Homo sapiens: one gene and its partner. The protein of the gene in region 2 purifies or fractionates together with the protein of the main gene of each other region. This does not show direct contact. Each region holds a gene or a part of one and is shown on either strand. Other genes may lie near its edges.

Region 1 (3,217 bases), on a different chromosome or scaffold from region 2:
CACTCACATGCTGAACCACACATTTGGCTAATTACAGAAAAAATTTCAAGGAAAAAAAAAAGACATACACAAGGAGTTATAAAATGCTGATGAGAAAGGTTTACACAAAGAGCTGTGAGACATTCGAAAAACTGGTTTTTGGCATTAAGACTTCCTATCCTTTTCTAGTAATATCTAAAATGGCTTCTTCCTAGCATTTAGGATAAAACTTCTTGTGTTGGAGAAGTATTTGGAAGTAAATAACAAACACAAACATCATTTATCACAAAGAGCAAAAGATGACATCTCAAAATTCTGCTTCTTGCCAAAATGGACATTAAGTTTTTGCTTGGAAGCAAATGTGAAAATAGTGACTTTTATCTAATTATCCCTACATATATCCAAAGAGAAAGTTATAACTTATTTGTCATGCTTTTAATATGATTTTCTGTCTTGAATGTTGGTATTTTAAACATTAAAATCGCCAATGAGTAAGCAAATAAGACAATTACCAGATGGCATCCTCAACCAAATGTTTTGAATTTATTATAATCGTGCTTCTCTACAACTAATGATTCTTGTGGTTTGCAAACCATGTCTGCCTTTATTTACCTACACAAACACGGAACAGAATTTCCAATAGGAGAGGTTCACACAGCTAACAAAGCATAGAGTGTGTGACCTCAATAAGGCATTCAACAAAGACACACGCCGTATTTCCCTCTGACTGCGTTCCCTTAGGATGCTCTGATGTTGGCGTCGCATTCTTCTAAAAGTAGAATCAAATCTTCAATCAGGCTGTGTTCTCTGCCATGTGTCACTCTCATAATATCAAAAGCCTAAAGAGAAAGGACGGAAGAGAGATTAGACCCCAAAATAGGTGAGCTCAGGCCATTCCCCACCTTTACCCCATGATGCCAGGGGCCTGGTGAACCCCACAGGTTTACAGGGTGAACAGTCTTTAACAGGCTTACAGCACTGTGGTTCTCCCAGCTGGAAAGTCACATGAAAAGGGTGATTTCTGAATGTGGTATTTGGAAAGCAGACTCACTATTCGAGTCATGCTGGGGCCCAGTGACAATCGATGATCTTCAAAGACTGTCAGTGCACAGGTTTGGTGGGTAGTCACAGGGATAAGAAGAGTTACCAAAATGATTGAGTCATATGAAAGACCATGCTGCTACCACCTTAAAATTTTTCTTTATTGCACACTCCATTCAATTCTCATCTATATGCACCAGGATTATTATATACATGTATTCTCACATTTTTTTTCATATCATATTATAGCACTGGCATTTCAACAGTCCTCTCCTTCACTGCTCATATTTGGTCCATTATTAAATCTTGTCAACTCTTATCTTCAAAATATTTCTGAAATCTGTGTGGGCTTATGAGTACTTCAATAATAGAGTATAATAGAAGTAAAGCAACTGACTTGTGAGACTAGGTCAAAAAGGCCTCTGTGTTGTTTACTGGTCAGTATGTTTGCTCCCAGAACCAAGAGACTCCATGCTGCAAGGAAGCCCAAGCCACATAGAGGGAGGCCGTGTACAGGCACTCTGGCTGGCAGTCTTAGCCAAGCTCATCTTTCAAGTCATTCTAGACAAGGCACCAGACATGTACATAAATAAACCTTCAGACGATTCCAGCACCCAGCTGAAGACTGCCAGATCTGTCTTCCCAGATGAAACACCAGACATTGTAGAAAAGAAGAAAGCCATTCTTATGCTGTGTGCCAATTCCTGACACACAGCATTTGTGCAATAATTTTGCCGTTGTTTACTCCATTCAGTTTTGGGATGGTTATGGAACAACAAACAACCAGAGTATCCTTGAAAATATTTTTGTAATAAATAAGAGATAAGCAATATTATCCTGCCCTGCCCAAATGGGGGGGTGGGGTGGGGTGGGGTGGACTGGGGAGAAGGGAGGGACACCAGAACCACTGCATTTGATGTAAATGTGCCCAGGAGACTTGTAAAGATATGACTCTGGTGGCTGTTATGCACCCAAAGTACCTGGAAGTGGCACTGAGGCTCTCAGCCTTAGCTACACAGCAGGATCAACCAGGGAGCTTCAAAAGAGACACCGAGGGCCAGACCCTGCACATCAACAGCTGAAGCCTGCTCTCCAGGAATGAGGCCTAGGCCCCAGGAGATTCCAACATGTTCTCAAGGTTGAAAACAACTGATAGAGCAAACTCTCAACAAATAACATCAACTACTCATGATTCAGTGTTAATTTATAGCCAGAAGAATTACCATTTTAATTGTTGTATATAATGAATGCCATCATGCTTATAAACCATTATTTACTAAGCTACTCCTGGAAATTTAGATCACCTCCAATTGTTTATTAGGATATGATGCAGACCTTCCAGAATAGATTTTTTGCCTTTCTTGGATATTTAAGAGCAATTGCTAGGGGTGGAATTCTTGAGCATGAACATCTTGAAAACCACAGAGATTTCAGACCTTGGTGGTCATGTGGTGAGACGCCTGCATTTTGCAATTCTGCATGCAGGAAAACTTTCCATTCTACGTTGGAAAAACGCTGAAGCTTCGAGAAACAAAGCATTTCAGGGGGATGGGTAATTTCAACCTCTGTTTCTGGCTTCTTTTTTCACCTCTTGAATGTTCCCTTTAGGCTGGAAGGAAAACAGGCAGACAGAGGGGGTCTAGATTTGCTGCTGAGAGAGAGAGAAAGAGAGAGAAAGAGAGAGAGAGACAGAGAGACAGAGAGAAAGAGAAAGAGAGAGAGAGAGAAAGAGAGAGAGAGAAAGAGAGAGAGAAAAAGAGAGAGAGAGAGAAAGGGCCAGCGCCTCAGACCCTGGCCTCTCAGCCTGGAAGACAGCTCTGCTCTGAGTCCAGTTGTGACCCCGCACTGGCAGTCTGGCCCCTCACCCTGTGACACTCCAGCTGCAAAGCCCAGAAGGTGGCTGGAGCTGAGATGCTGGCGGTGGGAATTGACTTCCTATTCATGCGAGCAAGTCTGCTCTGTGGGTGCACAGCATCTGCCAGCAAATCCCTAGGCAGGGGGCTGTCCGGAGTGCAGGGGAGGAGTTGGGACCAGCCCCCACCTTGCAAGCAGCCCAGCTCTATGAGATTCCCCTGGGCAGAAGATTAAAAACAAATGTTTGATGGCATTCATGGAGCACATGCCTCGTGTTTTATTCTCTTTTCTCCACACTGCCCTGGATCCTCCGCTGCTCTGGACATCTTGAGGTCTGAGGCAG
Region 2 (3,500 bases):
CTGCGACTACAGGCACATGCCACCATGCCTGGCTAATTTTGTTGTACTTTTCGTAGGGACAGGGTTTCGCCATGTTGCCCAGGCTGGTCTTGAACTCCTGAGCTCAAGCGATCGGCCTCCCTTGGCCACCCAAAGTGCTGCGATTACAGGCATGAACCTCCACACGTGGCCAAGTATTTTTTGCATAAAGTTTAAAACGGATAAAAAATGTATCTGCAACCATAAAGTCTAAGGGTTTTAGCTACCTTCTTTCATTACTTCTGTAGAACATCCAGATGATTTTACTTACTCTTGATAAACTTGGTTGTTTTGGAATTCTGAAGTCTCTGGAATAGCAGAATGAAGATTTGTTTCCTATATTGGTCAACTGATTCACTAAAGAATTAAAAAAAATCAACAATATAAATTTAGGACTTTTCTGAGCACCTAACAAAATTTCTAAATAAATGCACAAAGTTCTAGTCATACTCACGGAGGCATGTGCTCTATTATACTGTTTAGAAGATAAAAACCTTGGTGGTCATTTGCTTTGGATGCAATCAGCTTCTGAAAGACACCTAGTAACCCAGGCTGTTAAGAAATGAGATCCAACAGAAAATGGTTAACAGGAATAATTATTCGAAAAGTTAAACATGATATATGTCTTAAAACAGAGTTCATACTGTAATAATCTATCCTTTTCTCTTTAATTATTTCTGAAACATATGGGGAACAATTCCTCCCGCGTAGCCATTAAAGTAATTTTTTTTTTCTTTGAGACGGAGTTTCACTCTTGTTGCCCAGGCTAGAGTGCAATGGGGCGATCTTGGCTCACTGCAACCTCTGCTTCCCAGGTTCAAGCGATTCTCCTGCCTCAGCCTTCTGAGTAGCTGGGATTACAGGCACGTGCCACCACACCCACCTAATTTTTATTTTTAGTAGAGACGGGGTTTCGCCATGTTGGCCAGGCTGGTCTTGAACTCCTGACCTCAGGTGATCTGCCCACCTCGGCCTCCCAAAGTGCTGAGATTACAGGTGTGAGCCACCACGCCCGACCAAAGTTAAGTTCTTAAAATCAACCTGTTTGGCTCTGTTTTTAAAATTTTCCATCATGGATATAAATAACTAAAGGATACAGAATTCTGATAAAACATACCATAACATTTTCTACTAATTATTTCCGTTATTATTATTATTATTTTTTTTAAGAGACAGGGTCTAGCTCTGTTGCCCAGGATGGAGTGCAATGGTGAGATCATGGCTCACTGCAGCCTTAAACTCCTGGGCTCAAGCGACCCTCTCACCTTAGCCTCCCAAGTAGATGGGACCACAGGCATGCTCCACTGTGTCCAACTAATTAAAAAGCTTTTTTTTCCTTTGTAGAGATAGATCTCACCACGTTGCCTAGGCTGGTCTTAAACTCCTCGGCTCAAGGGATCCTCCCACTAGAGGCTCCCAAAGTGGTGGGCTTGAGCCACTGCCCCCAGCCTTAAATTTATTTTAAATAAAAAAATTTCAAACATCTGCCATCCCCAGTTTCTCCAAGCTACTTTATAAAATTACAGTTATATCAAAACCTGACGCACAATTTTGTCAGCTGCAGCACTTGCTATTGTGTTTGAACCGCGTTCTAAGAATGCTTGAAGAAGCCTCACTAGAGCAGGAATATTTCCTGTTCTTTCCCAAAGCACTGGCTGAAGGAGATGAGGAAATAAGGCCATATAGGAAGACGGGATGTCATTTTTGTGTGTTTCCAGAAGCAAAGACATCACTTGAAAGACGTATGGAATAAATTCTGTTGATAAAAGTAAAAACAGAGCTGTGAGCTTCAGAAGGAATGACTGACACAAAAGGCCCACATCGCTTAGGTGGGCTGCATTTTATAGCCATGTTAATTTTATTCCATTACAAAGAAAATAATTTCCGTTAACTTACCTTGCACATCATTTTGTAAGATTTCAGTAAACACCAAAAACAAAGCCTCCTCAAAATTTACAACAGCAGCAGGGTTAGCTTTGCAAGTTATTCTTATGGATAAACATATTGCTTCAAACATGTAGTGATTAAAGTGAGGTTTGCTTGGGTTCTGAAATTAAAAAAAAAAAACCTAATTATGCTAATAATCCACACCTAACCTTTATAAAACACATTTAAAATAGAGGCCATCTTATTTTTTAAAAATCAAAATTAAGAAAAAAACACCAATTATACCCTAGTGCTTGTTCATTTGAATTTTTTTTTAAATGGCCCAAAGTCCACCATGAAAAAAATACTTCAGAGTTACAGAGTTGCTTATACAAACCTCAGATCCCAGAGCTGTAACTTGTCTTAAGCCCACGTGCCCTCGCAGAGAAGAAATACTAAGTCCTAGTAATGCCACTAGCCTTAACTTCTGTGGGCCTCAATGTCTATGTCTACTTACTGATAATCCCCCAAATGAGTAGTTTTTTATGTTCTTTTTAAGCAACAAAACCCCATTTTTCTTTAAACAAGTTCTTGGAAGGCTACTAGCATACAAATCTAACTCAATCAGAACATGAGATGGTAATACATATGGGAGGCGGAGACTTGGGTTCCCTCCCCGCTCCATCCCTCAAGGCCCTAAGTAGTCCAAAGACCCTTAGCCCTAACTCAGTTGAATAATAATCACTCTGTTCTCCAAAATCCCTCCAACACTTCCTATGAATTGATCTAATTCTCATAAGATCAAGAATAGCATCTAAAAAGGAATTCTGTCAGCCTTAAACGGATTTATTTTCTAAAATTTAGTGTTAATAAACATGAATCTAAGTATCTGTAAAATTTTGATCAGAGTGAACTTTCCTTTTGAGAAATAAGAGTAAGGAAGAAAAGACAACACAAAGGATTTTAATCATCATTTCATAGAAGTCCAGACAGCCTCTTTTATATCCATTTAGTGCAAAGCCTACTTAACTCCATTTAAGGTAATTTTGGATCATCTGCACTTTCTTTTTCTACAATAAACATGTTACTTTTGTAATGAGAATGAAAATGTATTCAAGCTTCTAGCACACACTTAAAGGTGACTGCTATTACGTCTCCAATCTAACAGCATGCCCACACTTTCAGAAAAGTCCATTAGTGGCTGGTCAGGAAGAATTCACAGACCTTCTCTAAAGCTTCACGTAATGCCAAAGAGTTCTGAGGCCCAAACAGTTTGGAGCAAATAAAAAAGGAACCCCACTTTCAAAATTGGCTCTATTACCTTACTAACAGCTAATAGCTTCTGTGTAAGCTGAGTGATGAGAGTAGGGATGTAGGGGATTATGGCTTCTTGTAGGAGAGAAAAACTTCTCATGATAGCTGTAAAATACAAAAACAGCAAAAACAAATAGAGTTTAGTTAAACTTCAGAATAAGAGAGCGACTGGGGGGAAAAAAGCGCACTAATTCATCAACTAAATTTTAAGATGCTTAGACAACCCCGAGATAGCTCTCTACATTTAAAAATAATCTAAATTTCCCTTCCTTTTAAAATTAGGACGGGTTGGCAACAAAATT

The links. The genes of interacting proteins can lie anywhere in the genome.
Region 1: the proteins of CSE1L (region 2) and SMYD3 fractionate together in Homo sapiens (co-fractionation; one large-scale study listed by BioGRID). This does not show direct contact.

Annotation. Positions count from the first base shown.
Region 1 is NC_000001.11:245,748,847-245,752,063, forward strand, and holds the end of SMYD3 (histone-lysine N-methyltransferase SMYD3), read right to left. Parts: intron 819-3,217; coding exon 717-818; 3' UTR 501-716; downstream 1-500. UniProt on the Homo sapiens protein: Histone methyltransferase. Specifically methylates 'Lys-4' of histone H3, inducing di- and tri-methylation, but not monomethylation. Also methylates 'Lys-5' of histone H4.
Region 2 is NC_000020.11:49,087,812-49,091,311, reverse strand, and holds part of CSE1L (exportin-2), read right to left. Parts: intron 3,304-3,500; coding exon 3,206-3,303; intron 2,066-3,205; coding exon 1,915-2,065; intron 1,775-1,914; coding exon 1,566-1,774; intron 571-1,565; coding exon 473-570; intron 376-472; coding exon 290-375; intron 1-289. UniProt on the Homo sapiens protein: Export receptor for importin-alpha. Mediates importin-alpha re-export from the nucleus to the cytoplasm after import substrates (cargos) have been released into the nucleoplasm.